Linked DNA regions of Homo sapiens. The protein of the gene in region 3 purifies or fractionates together with the protein of the main gene of each other region. This does not show direct contact. Each region holds a gene or a part of one and is shown on either strand. Other genes may lie near its edges.

The links.
Region 1: the proteins of VDAC1 (region 3) and ATP1A1 fractionate together in Homo sapiens (co-fractionation; 3 studies listed by BioGRID, with this or other methods). This does not show direct contact.
Region 2: the proteins of VDAC1 (region 3) and UQCRC2 fractionate together in Homo sapiens (co-fractionation; 3 studies listed by BioGRID, with this or other methods). This does not show direct contact.

What each region holds. Positions count from the first base shown.
Region 1 is NC_000001.11:116,397,236-116,400,886, reverse strand, and holds part of ATP1A1 (sodium/potassium-transporting ATPase subunit alpha-1), read right to left. Parts: intron 3,000-3,651; coding exon 2,849-2,999; intron 2,267-2,848; coding exon 2,098-2,266; intron 1,958-2,097; coding exon 1,803-1,957; exon of another isoform or gene 1,573-1,802; intron 1,468-1,572; coding exon 1,344-1,467; intron 27-1,343; coding exon 1-26. UniProt on the Homo sapiens protein: This is the catalytic component of the active enzyme, which catalyzes the hydrolysis of ATP coupled with the exchange of sodium and potassium ions across the plasma membrane.
Region 2 is NC_000016.10:21,959,785-21,963,435, reverse strand, and holds part of UQCRC2 (cytochrome b-c1 complex subunit 2, mitochondrial precursor), read right to left. Parts: intron 977-3,651; coding exon 920-976; intron 676-919; coding exon 551-675; intron 1-550. UniProt on the Homo sapiens protein: Component of the ubiquinol-cytochrome c oxidoreductase, a multisubunit transmembrane complex that is part of the mitochondrial electron transport chain which drives oxidative phosphorylation.
Region 3 is NC_000005.10:133,998,348-134,001,998, forward strand, and holds part of VDAC1 (non-selective voltage-gated ion channel VDAC1), read right to left. Parts: intron 1-3,651. UniProt on the Homo sapiens protein: Non-selective voltage-gated ion channel that mediates the transport of anions and cations through the mitochondrion outer membrane and plasma membrane.

The DNA.
Region 1 (3,651 bases), on a different chromosome or scaffold from region 3:
GAAGCCTCCCAGGGCCTGGATCATTCCTAAGTTGGGAAAACAACCCAATTACTAGAACCTCACACACAAGGGTACCTGTATAGCCTTCAGCTGATTACTGCAGCAGGCCTGGGAGAGCACATATGGAGGAGTGTTTCCCCCTGGTTGATAAAAGCACAGGAAAGAATTGCCTGGTCACTCACAGGCTATGAGGGATGGGATGGAGGACCCCAGGCATACACTCCAATCTCAGGGCCCTCTGCTTTTTGAGTCACTTTTTGGAGCCTACACAAAGACACATGTGCCTTGCTCTCAAAATGCCCACCTGTTACTTGACCAGCTGCTTCTAAGGGTATGACCTTTAGGGGAAATCCACTTCCCTACTTTTTAATCTCTGACAAATGATAACTTCTTTTCCATCTTTCAAAATTCCTACATGCTGCCATTTTTCTAGCCACTGTGGCACTTTCTGACTCTCCTCCCCACCTTCAGGACCCTCCTCCCCCTGGCATCCAATTTAACCACGCTGCTCCAAGTTCCTCAGGGCAGGGTTTCATCCTAAACCACCAGAGACCTAGTCTTCCTTCCTCTCAAAAGCAGGCCTCCTTGGAGAAGGTCAGGATGGGCCACCAGCCAATTACTTTGTTGCCAACAACTGTCTAATGAATCTTTGCCATAATTTCCACAATATTCTATCTAATCTGTTCTTCTTTATCCAAGCGTTCACAGTTATGTGACCCATTAATCCAGGAGAATAAGACATCCATGGTGGCTTTGCCAGGTTCTCTTGAAGGAACCCTAGGCAGAGGATTTAAAAACAAATGGCATGCTGATTGCCCACCACCTGGATCACCTGTTAGCTAGTCATGCTGCACTGTGGGGGCAGAAGTCCAGTGTGAGGTGGATGGAGGATCACCCTTTGGTGGTGACCTACCAGCCAAACTCTCAAACACATATACTTTCTCCAATGCCTAACTCCATCCAAGTGAGTGACAGATAAGTGTGTATCTCCAGGGAAAGCAGCCTGTGCGTCAGTACACACAATTCCTTAGAACCATGCCTCCTGTTCCGCAAGGCTCAGTGAGGAAGGACATCCTCATTTCTCAGGCAGAGTTGAGCCCAGTTCCAAGGTGCTCAGTATAGAAAACCAGTTTCCACAAAAGGTAACTGGGCAAACAGCAACAGATGTATTCTCACATGGAAGAGAGTTCAGAGAAACTCCACAGGCTCACTCCGTTAGGGCTCATCCTAGACCTGAAAGTCGCCTGGATTTGCAGTCTCTGAAATCAACCTCAACCTGAGGTGGACACCATCACCTCAGATGCCTTAGATGTGCCAGCTTCCCACTCCAGGCTGCAGCTTACCAATCTGCCCATAGGCCATGCTGATCAGCCGCTCATTCACAAGTTTGTCTGTTTTGGGATTTCTGGGCTGTCTCTTCATGATGTCACTCTCAGCCTGCTCATAAGCCAGGGAGATGGCAGGAACCTGGGAAGGGGTGGGGAGAAGGAATTTAGTTACTAAAAATAAGGAAGCTAATATTGTGAACCTTTTGTTATAAAATTCTTGCCCTCCCATTTAAAAATCTTTTAGGTGAAGTATACAAAAATAAAGATTCCCATCTGATAAACAAATGTTAACTGCTGCCTTGAAGAGTGGTAATACTGATTCTGTGAAGCCGGGATTGGGACACACACTGGATACTGGTCCTGAGAATTTCTTTTCCCAACGCCAGCCTCATGGATGCTGGGAGCATAGTGCCAGTGAATGAAGACACAGCTCACACCTCACTACTATCGATCTGTGACTGTTGTGACACTCACCATGTCAGTGCCCAAGTCAATGCAGAGGATGGTGACAGTCCCCAGTGGTAGTGGAATGTTTGCAATAATAAATATCAGGAACGGGGTGATCTCGGGAATGTTACTGGTTAAGGTATAAGCAATGGATTTCTTCAAGTTATCAAAGATCAGACGACCTATGAAAACCAAGATTTTTTACTGTTAGCTTATGAGACAAGCACACTGGAAACTGAACATATCCAAGAAGTATACAGAAATGGATGCTAATGGGCAGTATCTGAATAAGATCTTGGTGTACACCTTAAATAGCTCTCACCTTCCTCTACTCCAGTCACAATTGAGGCAAAGTTGTCATCCAGAAGAATCATGTCAGCAGCTTGCTTGGACACATCTGAGCCAGCAATCCCCATAGCAACCCCAATGTCTGCTTTCTTCAAAGCTGGAGAGTCATTCACACCGTCACCAGTCACAGCCACGATAGCACCCTACCCCAGAAAAGGGAAAACGGGTTAATACCAATCACTTTTCCTAGCGATGGAAATAGTGCGATGCATGCCCCCACTGAGCACTCATTACAGACACTGCTCCTTTCCTATTGAGACTATTTATGAAGCCTGAGAACCGTCACAGGCAAGTATTCACACAGGCCCTACACCAAATAACAGAACTGAGAAGTGACAACAAACATAGCCCCCAGCATTAACAAGAGCTACTCAAAGTAATGACTCTGGTGGGTGGCACTCCAGAAAATGCCATTCCTGTATGCACGCCCTGTAGTCTGACCACTCACATCTCTATTGCAAATACTAGGACCCCATATCAGATGACTCCACGGAGCGGTCAGGCTCTGGGACACAGTGGACACCTGGACTTTAAAGTGCTTCTGTCACTGCTAAACCATTAACAAGTCACCCTCTCTATGCCTATGAGCTTCCTACTGGCCTATTTATACTGAGTCTAATACAGCGAGGTATGCATCCATCCATCACCGTTGCTCTGTTTCCACTGGAACTCCAATCCCTAAAGCCAATAGTGCCCAAAGCAGCCTGATCCTTGTGCTGGCTGACCTGTCTTTGGCAGCCTTCCACAATGATGAGCTTCTGCTGAGGGGAGGTCCTGGCAAACACTATCTCAGTGTGGTACTTCAAAATGTCATCCAGCTGCTCGGAGGTCATGTCCTTTAGATCACTGCCGTGTACTACGCAGGCCTTGGCATCCCTAGAATTAGGACAAAAAAAAAAAAAAAGTCACGCATCACATCACCAGCATGTGTCCATCACCTCAAGAGGGGATATTCTTATGCAGATCACTTTGTAAACAAAACAAAGAAGGAATTTTCCCCAGCACATAAAAGCTATTAAGTGTTCAGTACTTTACAGGTTACAGAGCATTTTCATATATTTTATCTCATTTGAGGCTCATGATGATCTCTAAGGCAGGCCTGTCTGTATTCTTCCTTTCCCTATCTTTATTAGACATGCTGAAATATAACCAAGTTTTAGCTGGGTGTGTGGCTCATGCCTGTAATCCCAGCACTTTGGGAGGCTGAGGTGAGTGGATCACTTGAGGTCAGGAGTTCGAGACCAGCTTGCCAAAATGGTGGTCTAAAAATTCAAAAATTAGCCGGGCATGGTGGTTGGGGCCTGTAATCCCAGCTACTTGGGAGGCTGAGGCAGGAGAATCACTTGAACTCAGGAGGTGGAGGTTGCAGTGAGCCAAGATCATGACACTGCACTCCAACCGGGATGACAGAGCGAGACTCCATCAAAGAAAAAAAGAAATATAACCAAGTTTTAGAAAGTGGCAGAGCTGATACAAGACCAAACCCTCCTCTAACCGTAACATAGGGTGAAAGGGCCCTAAACCTTAA
Region 2 (3,651 bases), on a different chromosome or scaffold from region 3:
AAACTTCTAGGATCTTACAAACAATTTACTTACCATCAAACATGAAAAATGATTATAAATGTTTAGAAACAAAAGAATAATAAATCTAAATAACAAATTTTTGAAAAAGATATTTTCAAATTCAAGGAGTAAAACATTTGGCCAGGCATGGTGGCTCACACCTGTAACACCAGCACTTTGGGAGGCTGAGGTGGGTGGATCACTTGAGGCCAGGAATTCAAGACTGAACTCCAGTCTGACCAACATGGCAAAACCCTGTTTCTACTAAAAATACAAAAAATTAGCCAGGTGTGGTGGTGCACACCTATAATTCCAGCTGCTCAGGAGGCTGAGGCAGGAGAATTGCTTGAACCCGGGAGCTGGAGGTTGCAGTGAGCCAAGATCGTGCCACTGCACTCCAGCCTGGGTGACAGAGTGAGACTCTGTCTCAAAACAATAAATAAATAAAAATAAAAATAAAAATTTTGACAGCAATTTTTTTTCTTCTATAAATTGATCTTCTAAAAAACCCAGTATCTTAGAATCAAATGTGATCTGGAAATGTACTTACGAGTCTGCGGATTCTGAAAGGCCACAGCTTTGTCAATCTTTAGCTGAGGCTGAAGGTCAGCTACTTCCCAACGACGAAATTCTGGTGCTGTGGTGACATTGAGCAGGAACTCCATTAGAATATCACTACAGAAGACATCGAGATAAGAATTATGAGTCAAAAATGTAAAGCCAACATTTGAGATTCTACATAGCTGTAATGCTCTCAATGTGAAACTTTAGGTCTTGTGGTAAGCAGTGTTTTTGAGCAGTTTATGAACAATAATCCAAAATGGAAGTCAGAGGTCATAATGACGCATTACAAAGACCAGAAGTGAGCAGCTTAGTATTTCTTTCAAAGCAGAAGTCCTAAACACACACAGGTACTTACACATCACCCCGCAGGCATTCCACAGTATAAGCCATGTTTTCCCTTGTTGCGGTCACACTGAATCGGAAAATAAACTAGAGTAAATCATCTGAATCAGGATAGTAAGCTTTCCCTTATAATCTTCTATCAACCAATTCCTTTGGAAAGAAAATTTCTGAAGTATAAAAGGTGCGAACAATAATATAACAAAACTCCACATATTAACCAACTAAAATTCAAAATTTTTTTAAAAACCAGCAAATAATTCAACCTTAAAAGGAGTGAAATCTGGTCACATGTTACAACACAGATGAACCCTGAGGACATTATGCTAAGGATAATAAGCCAGTCACAAAGGGACAAATATTGTATGATTCTACTTATGAGGTACCTGGAGTAGTCAAATTTGTAGAGACTGAAAAGAGAATGGCAGTTGCCAAAGGCTGAGGGGAGGGGAGAATGAGCAGCCATTGTTTAACAGGTACAGAATTTCAGGTGGGAGAAGATAGAAAAGTTCCGGAGCTGAATGTTGGTGATGGTTGCTGAATGCCACTTAACTGCACACTTAAGAAAATGATAAATTTGGGCCGGGCGCAGTGGCTCACACCTGTAATCCCAGCACTTTGGGAGGCCGAGGTGGGCGGATCACTTGAGGTCAGGAGTTTGAGACCAGCCTGGCCAACAGGGTGAAACCATGGTCTCTACTGAAAATACAAAAATTAGCCAAGCATGGTGGCGCACGCCTGTAATCCCAGCTACCACGGAGGCTGAGGCAGGAGAATCGCTTGAACCCAAGAGGCGGAGGTTACAGTGAGCCAAGATCATGCCACTGCACTCCAGCCTGGGCGACACAGCGAGACTGTCTAAAATATATATATATATATATATATATATATATATATATATATATAAATTTTATGTTATATACATTTGACCACAATTTTTTAAAATGGCAAATAAAGTTGAAGATCTTTTCGTACCCTTCCAAGACCAATTCCCTCACTCTCTCCCACTCTGGAAACCACAATCATAAGCACTACATAGTATTTTTCTGCTTAAAAAATTAAAATACCTTAAAGAAATCTTGAAACTTGCTTGTTCACACTCTATTTTGCCCTTCAGTTGTGCTATGTTGACGTATGGATCTAGTTCATTCCGTAATGGCTGTATAGTGGTCTCATCATGACTCTGTCATACTTTACCCATTTCCCTAAAGATGGACACTTAGATCGTTTCCAGTCTTTATAAAGAATACCTTTGTGAATGTGATTAAAAACTGTGGGGTTTTTCAATATTACCAGATATTCCTTGATTCTTTCCTAAGTGGTTGTATCAATTTATACTCCTATCAGCAGAATGAGACATTCTCTATCATCTTTACCACTGACAACACAATATATAAAAAATCTGGGCTGGGTGCAGTGGCTCACATCTGCAATCCCAGCATGCTGGGCTGAGGTGAGAGGATCACCTGAGGCCAGGAGTTCAAGACCAGTCTGGGCAACATAGTGAGACCTCCATTTGTACAAAAAATAAAAAATTAGCCAGGCATGGAGTCATGTGCCTATAGTCCTAGCTACTTGGGAAGCGGAGGGAGAAGAATCGCTTGGGCCCAGGAGTTCAAGGCTGCAATAAGGTATGTCTGCACCACTCCACTCCAGCCTGGGAAACAGAGCAAGACCCTGTCTTTAATATAAATTAATTAAAAAAAAAGAAATGCTGTTTCTGTCCTGAGTGTTCCACTGACCAGCTGCTCCCCAAGTCTTTCTCCCTCTCTTTGGATATTCCTACTCCTGAGACACAACAATATTGAAATTAAGCTAATGAATAACCCGACAATGGCCCCTAAGTATACAAGTGAAAGGAAGAGTCTCATGTCTCTCACTTTAAATCAGAAGCTAGAAAGGATTAAGCTTCTAAGGAAGTCAGGAAGGCATGTTAAAAACGGATACAGGTCAAAAGCTAGGCCTCTTGCACCAGTGCAGTTCTTGAAGAAAACTAATAGTGCTACTCCACTGAACACATAAATGATATGAAAGCAAGACAGACTTATTGCTGATAATACAGAGTTTTACTGGTCTGGATTAGATCAAACTGTATTCCCTTAAGTCAAAGCTTAATCCAGAGCAATGCCCTAACTCTCTTCAATTATATGAAGGCTGAGAGAGGTGAGATGCAGAAGAAAAGTCTGAAGCTAGCCGTGGTTAGTTCATGAGCTTTAAGGAAAGAAGCCATCTTCTTAATATAATAGTACACAGTGAAGCAGCAAATGCTAATATAGAAGCTGCAGCACGTTATCCAGAAGATCTACATAAGATCATCGATGAAGGTGGCTACACTAAACCACAGATTTTCAATGCTGACAAAACAGCCTTACATTGGAAGATGCCGTCCAGGACATTCGTAGCTAGAGAAGTCAATGCCTGGCGTCAAAGCTTCAAACGACAAGCTGACTCTTGTTGGGGACTAATGCAGCTGGTGACTTTAGGATGAGGTCATTTACCATTCTCAAAATCCTAGAGCCCTTAGGAATTATGCTAAATCTACTCTGCCTATGCTCTGTAAATGAACAAAAAAGCCTGGATGATAGTACATCTGTTTATAGCATGGTTGACTGAATATTTTAAGCCCATTGCTCAGAAAAAAGATTCCTTTCAAATTATTACTGCAACAATGCCAAGAGCTCTGATGCAGATGTACAAGGAGATTGACACTGTTTTCATGCCTGCTAATAGAACATCCCTTCTGCACCC
Region 3 (3,651 bases):
TAATAATTTGTTTAAGGATAAAGAATTTCAATACAAAAATTAGCCGGGCGTGGTGGTAAGTGCCTGTAATCCCAGCTACTTGGGAGGCTGAGGCATGAGAATCACTTGAACCCAAAGGCAAAGGCTGCAGTGAGCCAAGATCGTGCCACTGCACTCCAGCCTGGGTGACAGAGCGAGAGACTCCCTCTCCAAAAAAACAGCACTTTAAAAGCCAACCACTGTGCCTGAAATTGAGCTGTGTTGTGTCCCAAATCACGTTCCAAGGCTGCTGCAGTAGCAATGCCAGAAGGCTACCTAGAGTGTCCATACAGATTGCAAGAACAGATTTAAACTACACTGAGATGGAAGAGTTATCAGGCAAGGTCCGTCGGGGCACATTTCACTCCCAGGTGACCACTAGTGGCTTGGCCACCCTGCCAGAAATCATGAGCAGGAAAGAGCTCCCTAACTTCAGGGTGCACAAGAATCACCGGAGGCGCTTGTTCAAGAAGAGCCTGCCAGAAGAGATGGAACTCCTCCTGCCCTACCTCTCAGCCTGTGCCTAACAGGCAGGGCTGCCCCCAGGTGCCACTGAGAAGCAGCAGCTCAGGGCGGTTCCTGCACTAAGCACCTACCAGGCCCCCGCCTGGTAGAAATATGCTCTCTTCTCTGCAGAGGCTCCCTCAAAAGGATTCAGGCATGTGCCAGGCATGGTGGCTCACGCCTCTAATCCCAGCACTTTGGGAGGCTGAGGCAGGAGGATCGCCTGAATGCAGGAGTTCGAGACCAGCCTGGGCAATACAGTGAGACCCTGTCTCTTTTAAATAAAAAATAAAAAGAAATAAATAGTAATAATAGAAGGATTCAGGCAGATGAGCTTTGCACCCCTAGAGAGCCAACAACTACTGCAATGGTTGATACAGGGAGCAGGGTGGCCATGGGTCTCCAAGACTCAGCTAAAAACAGCTGGGAGGAAAGGCCTTAGGCCTAAGGAAGTTGTTACAAGGAATGAGTGAAACAGGCAGAACAGCAGAAGTATCTGGCATGGAGTAAGTGTTCAACAAATGGCAGTAATAACCATAATCCACTACACTGGATACTCTGTCTGCCCCTCCAGATCCATTCTCCTCCCTTCCACCCTGCTCTGTGCCCCCAGAACTGATCATTATGGACTGCTGTCCATGGGCTTATGATTGGGCTTAGCCTTTCAACGTGAGGTACTTGCAGAAGACGGGAGTTTAGGGAAGAATGAAGTCGGGGTACTCACCCCGAGTCTCCCTCCCTGCTAGGCTTCAGATGGGCAATGACTACCTTCCTCTACCCAAGGCCACAGCTCCTGCCAAGAAGCTCCCTCTCTTGTAGGCCTCAGGGTGTTAACAGACCAGACCTGACACCCCATCCACAGCTTTGCAAATGATGTCTTCATTAAACTCTCCTGGATTACCAAGTGTAAGTGTGCACCAGATCCCTGCAAAGACGCTAACCAACAGAGCAATCACAACCATCATCATCATCATTGCCATCATCTTATGATTCTGCCAAGGAAGAGAGTACTATGGAAAAGTCTCTGGCCCCGCTGTTTCACCAACACCATTCTAGGTGGTTTGTCAGGGCAGAACTAGGCCAGCCTATAGGAGGGGTATCAGACCAGCCAGTGATCACAGAAACAGCACCTCTTCCTAGCCCTGAGGACCAGGAAAAGCAACTTCCCCAGCAGAAGGCAACCCTAGCTCTAAAAGCCAACATGGGGGCGAACACAATCAGCAGCTCGCTCACACACATGCACGCATGCACACACACACACTCCAGCACTTTCTCTTTCTTGCCAGGAAGAAACAACCCAGGGGAACAGTTCCTGGTTCAAGCTCCAGGATGCTGGCAAAGGCTGATGGCCCTGTGTTCTGGTAGCAGGTCTGCGTACCCAATGCAGCTGTTCTCTCCCTCCATTCTTCCACAACAGTCTCGCAGTGGGCAGTAGAGCTTTCCAGGGGTAGCTTCTATTTTGAAACACCCTGGCAGCTGGGCCACCACCAGCACAGCTGAGTTCCATGCTGAGCTCCTGGGCTCAAGAGGTTGCTGACTCAGGGCAGCCTGCCCACCCACCTATCAAGGGGAGATGGCCTGCGCTGGCAGCCAGTACACTATGGTCTGGATCCCAGGCATACCTGGGGCTCCTACCTGACCTAAGGCACCTCAAGTTCCCTGGAGCCTCACTGCTTGGCTTGACCAGGTAGGGTTGAGACAGACAGTGCTTGGGCAGGAAGCCTCGGGAATCAAATAGACCTGAGTTCTAACCCACCCCACCACTTTCTAGGTATGTGACTTTGGGCAAGTCGCAACCTCTCTACTCCTTTTTCTTCAGCTCTAATATGGAGAAAGAGAGCCTGGATGGCGTCACTGTGAGGACTGAATTAGCTCGTTAATATACAACACTTGGTACAGTGGCTGGCGCTTGGTAAGCAGGGAATACACACAGTATTTTATCACAAGTTTTCATTTTGTATATTTATTATAATAATGGCTGCTAAGCATGTTCAAAAGGTCACCCTGAACCACAGGGTCCAGAGTCCTTCATGTCCACAATGAGGCATTGTTTAGCTGAACAGGTCCTGAAAGAATGCCTCCCACCAGATCCCAGGGAAAACGGACCCTTATAATAGACACTCAGCACCACTGTCCTTGCAAGAAATAGAGGTGACTCCATTGTCCACTGCCAGTTGGCCCGCACACAGCCATGCACAAGTTCACTCTGACTGGTGTGGAAAAATAATGTCTCCCATCTGAACACCAATTTTGACTTTCCAAAAGGCATTCACATCTGTTAGCACCTTGCAAGGGTCCCTTGGAGTGCAACTGCAATGTGAGAGCACCACCATTCAGACCAGGCCTTGAATCCCAACTCCACTCCTGCCAGGCTGTGTTACCTCACCTCTCTGTGCTCGAGTCTGCTGACCTGTGAAATGGAAACACACTATCTCTCTCCCAGGGTATAGGGTGGTGAACTCAACATCACAGAACATTCGTTGAGCCCCCAGAAAGGTGCTGAGCAAGCCCTCAATCAGCAATCACTGTAATGACGACAATCATACTTTTATAGCAGACAAACTCGGCCGGGCTCAGTGGCTCACACCTGCAATCCCCGCACTTTAGGAGGCCGAGGCGGGTGGATCAGGAGGTCAGGAGTTCAAGACCAACCTGGCCAAGATGGTGAAACCCCATCTCTACTAAAAAATACAAAAAAATTAGCCAGGCATGGTGGCAGGCGCCTGTAATCCCGGCTACTCGAGAGGGTGAGGCAGAGACTTGCTTGAACCCGAGAGGTAGAGATTGCAGGGAGCCGAGATTGCACCACTGCACTCCAGCCTGGGCAACAGAGTGAGACTCCATCTAAAAAAAAAAAAAAAAAAAAGAGAGAGAGAAACTGAGGCACAAGACAGTGACTTGACCTGTATGAGACCGACCCTATGGCTCACCAGACCTGTGTTATGGGCCTAAGCTACTCTCCAGTGCTCTTTCCAGCACAGTTCTGAGTAAAGAACTTAAAGTCCCACTCATCCCAAACCCCCTGAGTACGTGGTAAAATGGAGAAATGCGCCCAGACCCAGCTGAGGAGCCCACTGGTCAACTTTTCTCAGTGGCTACCACAGGACTCCATGGAAAACCCAAAGCCGC